Regions from separate parts of the Homo sapiens genome. Here regions 2 and 3 are each reported to be linked to region 1. The links are microRNA targets in miRTarBase. Many come from high-throughput screens and were not tested one by one. Region 1 holds a microRNA gene; each other region holds the end of a gene's coding sequence.

The links. The annotated mature microRNA hsa-miR-6828-3p reads AUCUGCUCUCUUGUUCCCAG and lies in region 1 at 1,241-1,260, shown strand. An mRNA with a match to its seed (bases 2 to 7 or 8) in the 3' UTR can be bound and repressed. Matches are read on the target gene's strand: a 7mer-m8 pairs with bases 2 to 8, a 7mer-A1 pairs with bases 2 to 7 and ends in A, and an 8mer does both.
Region 2: miRTarBase lists GPRIN2 as a target of hsa-miR-6828-3p. The part of its 3' UTR that is shown has no 7-base or 8-base seed match.
Region 3: miRTarBase lists MYO1F as a target of hsa-miR-6828-3p. Seed matches in the 3' UTR shown: 7mer-A1 at 817-823.

What each region holds. Positions count from the first base shown.
Region 1 is chr3:170,421,903-170,425,175 of GRCh38, forward strand. MIR6828 (microRNA 6828) reads left to right here and starts at 1,201; the gene lies at 1,201-1,260. It overlaps CLDN11 (claudin 11), which reads left to right. Exons shown (of 3, transcript NM_005602.6): 2 at 1,261-1,425.
Region 2 is chr10:46,546,853-46,550,125 of GRCh38, forward strand. It overlaps GPRIN2 (G protein regulated inducer of neurite outgrowth 2), which reads right to left. Exons shown (of 3, transcript NM_001385282.1): 3 at 1-3,273. The coding sequence ends at 2,508. Among named protein-coding and RNA genes, the nearest start is that of GPRIN2, 8.2 kb to the right of the region's middle.
Region 3 is chr19:8,518,880-8,522,087 of GRCh38, reverse strand. MYO1F (myosin IF) reads left to right here. Exons shown (of 28, transcript NM_012335.4): 28 at 484-1,310. The coding sequence ends at 560. Among named protein-coding and RNA genes, the nearest start is that of ZNF414, 6.3 kb to the right of the region's middle.

The DNA.
Region 1 (3,273 bases):
TTTTTCAGTTCTCTTATTCCTTGATTCGCAATTGTTTCCATGATCTGTTGTGGGCACTGTGTTAACTCCGTGAATACCAAGGCAGGTGTCTGCCCTCCAGGAACCCTGAGGGCTGGAGAGATGCCTTTTAAGCAATGATGGACAGTTGGGGAAGGATGCCCAGGGCACTGTGGGTGAGGCAGGAGATGGGGTCCAACAATTTAGGGGCAGGATCCATGAGGACAGCAGCCTCTGGGGAGACAGCAAAGAGAGGAAGCCTGAGTCTTAGTTTAGTCTGGGTTAGGGCCACAGCCAATGTGAATGAAAGCACATGGTTAGGAGAAAATCACCTAGGACACCTGAAGATGAAAGCGCTGCACTGAGACAGACAAAGAACACCAATGATAACAACTAACCTTTTTTGAGGATTTGGTATAGGCACTGTTTTAAGCACTAAATAAATTAACTAATGTAATCTTCAGTAGAATTCTATTACAGAGATGTAGGTACTATTATATTATTATCAATACTTTGTTTGTTTATTTATTTATTTATTTTGAGAAAGAGTCTCGCTCTGTCACCTGGGCTGGAGTGCAGTGGCTCGATCTCAGCTCACTGCAACCTCCCCCTCTCAGGTTCAAGCGATTCTGCTGCCTCAGCCTCCCCAAGTAGCTGGGACTACAGGCTCACACCACCACACCAGGCTAATTTTTGTATTTTTAGTAGAGATGGGGTTTCGCCCTGTTGGCCAGGCTGATCTTGAACTCCTGACCTCAGAAGATCCACCTGCCTTGGCCTCCCAAAGTGCTGGGATTAGAGGTGTGAGCCACCATGCCTGGCCTGTTGTTACTTTATAGATGTGGAAAATAAGACATCATGGTTAAGTAACTTGCCCAAGGTCACACAGGTAGAGCTATCAATAGCAGACTGGAACCAATAGAGGCCCTCACAGAATGATTCTTGGGAGATTTCAGTTTTCATCTGAACTTTCTCAGGGGGATGTAATAATGTAAATGGACTCTTGGCCCCTCCATCCTGGAAGCTTGGCCAAGTGGCCTAAACCAGGGGTCCCCATTTAGTTTCTCCAGCCCCCTTTTTTCTTGCTGAGTTGTTTTAAAAGTTAAAAAGTGCTTAGTGACCTTGGACAACATTAGCACCTTCTAAGTCCTGGAATCCACCAAGAAGGAGGAAGGGAGATGGTGCTGAATTCCCCTAAGGCAGGGCTCAGGAAGCAAGAGAACCCTGTGGTCTAACCTTTCCCATCTGCTCTCTTGTTCCCAGGCTACGTGCAGGCCTGCCGCGCCCTGATGATTGCTGCCTCGGTCCTGGGTCTGCCGGCCATTTTACTGCTGCTGACTGTTCTTCCCTGCATCCGGATGGGCCAGGAGCCCGGTGTGGCTAAGTACAGGCGGGCCCAGCTGGCTGGTGTTTTGCTCATTCTGCTGGGTAAGACAGCTTTCTCAGTGGTACCCTACCTATGAGGGAGCCTGATGAATCTCAGATCTTGTGGTTGCTGCCTTCTCAAGTTCAAGAGAAATGTGAAAGGAAGCCAAGTGAAGCCAGTGGGGGATGGACTCCCACAATCTGTATCCCTTTGTATTTTATGGGCAGTTTACACAGAGGGCTAAGTAATGTCTCTGGGAGTCACTGACCATGAAGATAAGTTTAAAAAGAGAAAGAGGATTTTGAAGGTAGGAAATACCTAAGGGAAAGACCTGAAAGATGGAAGCCTTCTCAGTCTTCACAGTGGAATCCTTTTTGAACACCTATGCCCAGGTCCCACAGCAGATCAATTGAATCAGAATTTTCTGGGCATCAGGCCAGGCAAAGATATTTTTTGAAAGCTTCCCAGGTGATGCTTATGTGCAGGCAAGACTGAGCAGCTCAGTTAATAAAGAAGGAGGCCGAGGTGGGCGGATCACCTGAGGTTGGAAGTTCAAGACCAGCCTGGCCAACATGGTGAAACCCCATCTCTACTAAAAATACAAAAATTAGCCAGGTATGGTGGTGCATGCCTGTAATCCCAGCTACTCGGGGCGGGGGTTGCTAAGGCAGGAGAATGATTTGAACCCAGGAGGCAGAGGTTGCGGTGAGCTGAGATCACGCTACTGCGTTCCATCCTGGGTGACAGAGTGCAACTCCAAAAAAAAAAAAAAAGAAAAAGAAAAAGAAAAAAGAAAGAAAGAAAAAAGTAAAGAAGAGGGCAAGAGAAAAGTCAGGAGTTGAGGGTGGTTAGACCACCAGGTGATGGCTCCGTCCTTTAACTCAGTAAGCCTTCCTTGAGCATGTGGGCCAGACACCATGGTAGGTACTGGGGACACTGGGGAAAATAGGCCGTCTTTGCTTTGAGTGTACTTGGAAACCTCAATAGAATATGGTATGTGCTCATGTAGAAAAGGTATATAGTCTGTGCATACACATAGGAAGGCACCTAACCCAGACTGGATGAGTTTCCAGAGTGGAAGAACCCAGCAGTAAGCTCTGAGACTTGAAGAGGAGGTGGGCTGGTCATGAATTGAGGGGAGGGACAGTCCAGGGACAGGAAATGGCATGTGCTCATTTGGTTTTGCTGATTATACCTGCACATAAAGGGCTTCATTTAACAACCTATGGAGGGTCCTTCTAGCTCTCTTCTCGTCAGTGATTTAATTTCTCTCCGTTTTTTTCCCTCAGATGCTAGTTTCATTAGCACATTCTAAATCCTAATAGACAATATGAATTTTAAGAACAACTCTTGTTGCAAAGTGCGCATATCAGTGACAACAAATTAGTCTGGTAATGGGTTAGATATAAAATCACCTTCTTCTGAAACAAGGAATTCATACCCCCAGATTGGCATATCAGATGATGAATTTGAGGGGTAAGGATAAGGGGTCAGGGTTCTGTGTGGGTTGATGCCACTTGGTGGGTACCTCCCATCTGGAGGCCTCACACTCATAATGACACCAGTAAGGTGAGGGGACATGAGAGGTGGGGCACCATTTTCCAGGATTGCAAAGGGACGGAGGTTTGCAGGTTCTTGTGAAGCCACAAGGGTGTGTGTGTGTGTGTGTGTGTGTGCGCGCGTGTGTGTGTGTTAACAGGAGTGAAAAGGCCACTAATTTCCAGAGAAAAATCTGAATGTGGAAATTTTGGTTCCAGCCACAAAGAATTTGTGTGCCAGCGTCACACGGAACACATATCAGCATCCGGTGCTTTATCTGACTCACAGGGGCTCCCTCTTGCAGTGCTCTATGGAGGTCAGGTCTATTGTCTGACTCCCTTTCCAACAGGAAAGTGAAAGCTCCACAAGTA
Region 2 (3,273 bases), not on the chromosome of region 1:
TTGGATTTCAGCACCGCTCTGCAAATACTCATCTCAGTGACGATGAGGTGAGTGGGAGCTTGGCTGAGCCCAGCCCGGCCTGCCATCCTGGCAAGCCAGGGCAGCATGGAGGTAGCACAGAGTGGCACCCAGCCAGCGTGAATGCATAAGAATCTGCACGTGACACAGAAGAAAGTCTCTTCATGAAGTAGGTTTCACTGGTCCCAGCCAAACCCTGTGGCAGGTGGCCCTTTCTGCACCTGCTGAACATGCCATTCACCTTGACCCAGGTAGTGGCCTCACCCTCCTCTTGCTCAAACTGGAAACCTCAGCATCCTGAAATGCCTCCTCCCCAAATCCATTGCACACATGTGTGCCTGTGTATGCGTGTGTGTGCACGTGTATGAACCCAGCCCCCAGCTGCCCACTCCATTGCCCCTAAACAGGCCCCTCCTTGGTGTCACCTGGCACATCTCCACTGGAAGCCAAATGGATATTTCTAAACTGAAATCTGGTCCCACCTCAGAACCCCTTCCACAGTTCCCTTAAAGTTCCTTTCCTCATTTACATCAGGATCTTCACAATGGGGACCCCTGGTCACCTCCCAACCCAACAAACGCTCCAAATGAGCCGCCACTGCAGAAACTCATTATGGCCCAGGCAGGACAGGCACATCCAAGTATCTGACCAGGCTGTTCCATCTGCCAGGCAGGTCCTGCCCTCTCTCCACCCACCTGTCTAACCCCTGCATCCTCAAGACCCTACTTAGCTATGGCCCTGTGTGAAAGGTCCCTCCCCATGCACCCACAGCCATTTGTTCTCTCTCATGTGGCCCTAACAGGCTGGGGTTCCTGGAGACTCCATGGGGAGCCAGGCATGAAGATGGCATATACCCATGTGTCACTCCCCAGAACGTGAGCTGCCTGCCCTGGCACCATACACAAAGGGACTGACAGCCCCAGAATCCCAAGGGGTGCACCTATGCATATGGGAAAGGCATGTTTACGGGTGAGAATGGTCCATCGTTGGGCTTCAGGAGGCATCTGACCTGACGCACGCCTTTGTCACTTTGTCCTTGTGGCCTGTTGAAATGCCACTCCTGCTTTACAAATTCACCAACTGTTGCATGAGTCATTTCCACCTCAATGAGTACCAGGTCCTTGAGGATGGGGAAAAGTAAGCCACCACTGTGGGGGTCCTGGGCTCCTAGGTGCAGAAGAGGCTCCAGAAACAGGCCAGGTCGTGGGCCATGACCCCACACTAGCCCTCTGGTCCCTCACACGGGTGGATTGGGGGGCTGTGTCACGGGATCTTAGGATCTTCAAGACAAAGACCCAGGACAAGAACACAAGCCCACTCCCATTCTTCACAGGCCTCGAGAAATCTTTGGGCAATGAAGTCAGACTGTGCCAAAGCCCATGTTTCTGTCTCTCCAAGGCCCCTGGCCCCCACTGCCTAGCCTAGGTCAGGTCATGTGGGCAAGCGAGCCCCCACAGCCTCACAGCCCCTACCCCAGGGCCAGGGCAAACTCCTGCCCTGTCCCCCTCCATTCCTGCCCTCCCTCCTTCCACAAACTGCACCAGCTGGGGAGAAATCCTTCAGCCGACAGAATGAGGTGAAAATAGTGCAATTTTAGGCTTTGTAACTGAGATTAGGGCAGGTGGCCACCCATTCTCCCCTTCCTCAGGCCAGCCTCTGACACAATGACCCTGGAAGCCTGGCAGCCCTCCGTAATGGTCAGCATCCTCCCCTGCCATCCCCAACCCACACCATGAGCTCAGCCAGGGCAGGGGCAGCCTCTGTCTCATTCACCACAGAATCCACAGAACCCAGCACAGAGTATGAGCTCAGTAAATTCTCCTCATACATGACTGCACTGACTGGACCGGGCACATGCTACAGGGCAACACCCACGGCTCAGCTGGCCCTGGCTTTGGATCTCAGTCCCACCTCTTCAAGCTGTCCAGCGTGGGGCACATCGGCTACAGCCTTGCCAAATGAAGGCTTGCCAGGATGAAGAGGTGAAGACAGGACAAGCACAGTATGTGGCACACAGGAGGCCTCTGATAACATCAGTCCCCTTCCCTAAAGACCTGGGCAGTCCCTGTCACTGGGGCCTCACATTTCATGTCGAGAATTCACTATTTCTCAGCACTGATTTCAAATAAAGCCACCAAGAGTCTGACGAGGCAACATGGCAGAGTTCTGAGGGTGGAGTGAACAAAAGGTCATTTTTTACAGAAAACTCAGGATCTCCCCTCTGCACAGTGCTAAAGCCCTGTCTCAAAGTTCAGAGCCCGGAAGGTGCAGAGATGTGGCCCTTGGAAATCAAGCCCTTAAGAAAACAGCCCAGCTGTGTAGGGCCGGAAGCCCCAGGCTGCAGTCCTGTGGTCTGGAGGCAGCCAATATTCAGGTGAGAGATGTGCCCAGCTGCCGGTGGGTCCAGGGGGCACGGAGCCCCCACCGTCCCTGGCCCAGGTCTAGGACTAAGTCAGTGGGCCCAGGCCAGCTCCAAGGGCCACAGCTCCTCACTCGGGGGCCGCGCCGGAGCAGCCGCAGCAGCTGGGGCGCCGCAGGGACTGCATGACAGCCCGCAGTGGCCCCCTCCGGCCCTCCACAGACAGGCTGTCCTCGCTGGCGGGCGCCCGCTGCAGCTGCTCAAACTGCATCTCCAGGTGCTTCTGGATGGCCACACCGAGCACCTCCAGGTCCACCGCAGCTCCGTACACCTCCCATGTCATGCCCTCAGCATCCCATCGCACATCCCGCACAGGGGACGGCACCTCCTCCAGGCTGGACCCCAGAGTTACCTCTGGGAACACATGCAGGGCTGCAGGCGCTTCCAGGGACGGACTGGTGGCCACAGCCTTGCAGGCCGCCACTGGGGCCGCCTGCACACCAGCATCCTGGGCTGACAGCGGGGATGCCTCTGCAGGGGCCAAGTCATTGGCTGAGGTCATGGTCCACACATCTTTGGTCCTAGAGCCAGGCTCTGGGACTAACCCAGCGGGACCCCAAAGGTGGGCACAGCAATGGGAATGCCCAGGGAGCCCCCCAGACAACCTACAGTGGATCTTCACCCCATGCTGAGCCTGCAGCCCAGACTCGCTCACTGACGCCACTAGTTTGGGAAAGGCCAGGATCCCTGTGGCAGGTAGGGCATGGCAGCAGCCACCAGCCCTCACCTCCCTCATGCCACAGAGTAGAGCAGCTGGGGGCAGAGCATGGCAGGTGGTGGTAGCCAGCTGTTCAGCAGCTTTGGGCTCAGCCTGGGCACTGCTGCTGTGGGCAGTT
Region 3 (3,208 bases), not on the chromosome of region 1:
TTGCGCCAACACACTCCAGCCTGGGCGATAGAGCGAGACTCCGTCTCAAAAAAAAAAAAAAAAAGAACCCTGACTGACATTGCCAGGCAGACCCCACCACTGCACACCCTCCCCACGGGAGAACAGAGATAACAGATGGGCGAGGTGGCTCATACCTGTAATCCCAGCACTTTCAGTGGCTGAGGCAGGAGGATCACTTGAGGTCAGGAGTTTGAGACAAGCCTGGGCAACCTAGCAAGACCCCATCTCTACAAAAGATTTACAAAAAAAAAACTTTTAAAGAGTAGAAATGGCCGGATGCAGTGGCTCACACCTGTAATTCCAGCACTTTGGGAGGCTGAGGCAGGAGGATGGCTTAAGCCTAGGAGTTTAAGACCAGCCTGGACAACATAGGGAGTCCCCATGAACAAGATGGACAGACCAGGCATGAGAGCTTTCTCCAGGGCCAGCTAGGGGCACCTCAAGCTTTCCTCTCTCCCACAGATCCCTCGGGCTGGTGGAAGGGCCGGCTTCACGGCCAGGAGGGCCTTTTCCCAGGAAACTACGTGGAGAAGATCTGAGCTGGGCCCTGGGATACTGCCTTCTCTTTCGCCCGCCTATCTGCCTGCCGGCCTGGTGGGGAGCCAGGCCCTGCCAATGAGAGCCTCGTTTACCTGGGCTGCAATAGCCTAAAAGTCCAGTCCTTTGGCCTCCAGTCCTGCCCAGGCCCTGGGTCACCAGGTCACTGCTGCAGCCCCCGCCCCTGGGCCCTGGTCTTCCTCCAACATCACACCTGCTGCCCATTCTCCATTTCTGTGTGTGTCAAAGGGGACTAACAGCAGAATCTACCTCCCAACTGCCATGTGATTAAGAAATGGGTCTTGAGTCCTGTGCTGTTGGCAAAGTGCCAGGCACAGTTGGGGAGGGGGGGGTCCTTAACAAGCGTGACTTTGCTCATTCTGTCATCACTAAGGCAATAAACCTTTGCCAGGTGAAAGCACGAGTTAACTTACTAAGTGCCCAACAAGGACGATGTTTTCACAGCCCTGTGAGGTAGGAGCTGTGAAGGACCCCATCTTACAGGTGGAACAATGGAGGTTCAGAGAGGTTCACTGACCCAAGACTGCACAGAGCCATGCCTTGCATTCATATGTGACCATAAAGCTTGAATTTGTCCCAGTTTGGGCTGGGCGCAGTGGCTCACGCCTGTAATCCCAGCACTTTGGGAGGCTGAGGCGGGCAGATCACGTGAGACCAGGAGTTCAAGACCAGCCTGGATAACACAGCAAAACCCTGTTTCTACTAAAAATTTAAAAAAGAAAAAAAAAAAAGCCGGGTGTGGTGGTGCCTGCCTGTAATCCCAGCTACTGGGAAGGCTGAAGCAGGAGAATCACTTGAACCCGGGAGGCAGAGGCTGCCGTGAGCCGAGATCATGCCACTGCACTCCAGCCTGGGCAACAGAGCAAGACCCTGTCTCAGAAAAAAAGAAAGGAAGGAAGGGAGGGAGGGAGGGAGGAGGTGGGCGCGGTGCCTCACACCTGTAATCCTAGCACTTTGGGAGGCCGAGGCGGGCAGATCACAAGGTCAGGAGATCGAGACCATCCTGGCTAACATGGGGAAACCTTGTCTCTACTAAAAATACAAAAAAGTAGCCGGGCGTGGTGGCGGGCGCCTGTAGTCCCAGCTGCTCGGGAGGCTGAGGCAGGAAAATGGCATGAACCTGGGAGAAGGAGCTTGCAGTGAGCCGAGATTGCGCCACTGCCCTCCAGCCTGGGCAACAGAGCGAGACTCCATCTCAAAAAAAAAAAAAAGAAAGAAAAGAAAATAAAGAATTTGTCTCAGTTTCCCTTCCAAAATCTGCATCCCAAATGGTCCAGCAGGTCCTGTTAGTCTTGAAGCTACAGCCGCCAAACCCATCTGGGACCTATGGAGAGAGGCAGGTCCCACATGCCACATGCTCCCACCCTCAATGCACTCTGGGTCACTCCTGCCCCCTGCACCCCAATCCCATTTCTGTGCCCTCTTAGTCTTCACCTAACTGGGACTAAGACTGGAGTCCTGCTATGGTCTGAGCCTAAAGATCCTGAATTTTGGGCTGGGCGCAGTGGCTCATGCCTGTAATCCCAGCACTTTGGGAGGCCAAGGCGGGCGGATCATCTGAGGTCAGGAGTTCCAGACCAGCCTCACCAACATGGTGAAACCCTGTCTCTACTAAAAATACAAAAATTAGCTGGGCATGGTGGCACGTGCCTGTAGTCCCTGATACTTGAGAGGCTGAGGCAGGAGGTGGAGGCTGCAGTGAGCCAAGACTGCACCATGGAATTCCAGTCTGAGCAATAGAGTGAGACTCTGTCTCAAAAAAAAAAAAAAATTCCTGAATTTTGGGAGTGGTGGTGCATGCCTGTAGTCCCAGCACTTTGTGAGGCCGAGGCTGGAGGATCACTTGATCCCGGGAGTTCAAGGCTGAAGTGAGCTATGATCGCGTCACTGCACTCCAGCCTGGGCAACTCAGCAAGACCCTGTCTCTAATACTAAAATAAACCAAATCCTGGCCAAGCATGGTGCCTCACAGCTGTAATCCCAGCACTTTGGGAGGCCAAGGCAGGAGGATCACTTAAGGTTTGACCACCCTAGGCAACCTACTAATACCCTGTCTCTACAAAAAAATTTTAAAATTGGCCGGGCACGGTGGGTCACACTTGTAATCCCAGCACTTTGGGAGGCCAAGGCGGGCAGATCATAAGGTCAGGAGATCGAGACCATCCTGGCTAACACAGTGAAACCCCATCTCTGCTAAAAATACAAAAAATTAGCCGGGCGTGATGGTGCGCGCCCGTGGTCCCAGCTACTCGGGAGGCTGAGGCAGCAGAATTGCTTGAACCTGGGAGGCGGAGGTTGCAGTGAGCCGAGATGGCGCCACTGCACCCCAGCCTGGGTGACAGAGTGAGACTCCATCTCAAAAAAAAAAAAAGCTAGTGTCATGCCTGTATTCCCAGATACTCAGGAGGCTGAGATGGGAGGATCACTTGAGCCCAGCAGGTCGAGGCTGCAGTGAGCTGATTACAACATTGTACTCCAGCCTGGGCAACAGAGCTAACCCTGTCTCTCTCTAAAAATAATAATAATAATAATAATAATAATAATTAATTGTAGCTTTCTAATATGGACACCCGCTCTGTGCTCAGCCCCTCAAAGAGAAGCCAGTCCAGTAGAGATGGGGCTGACTGGT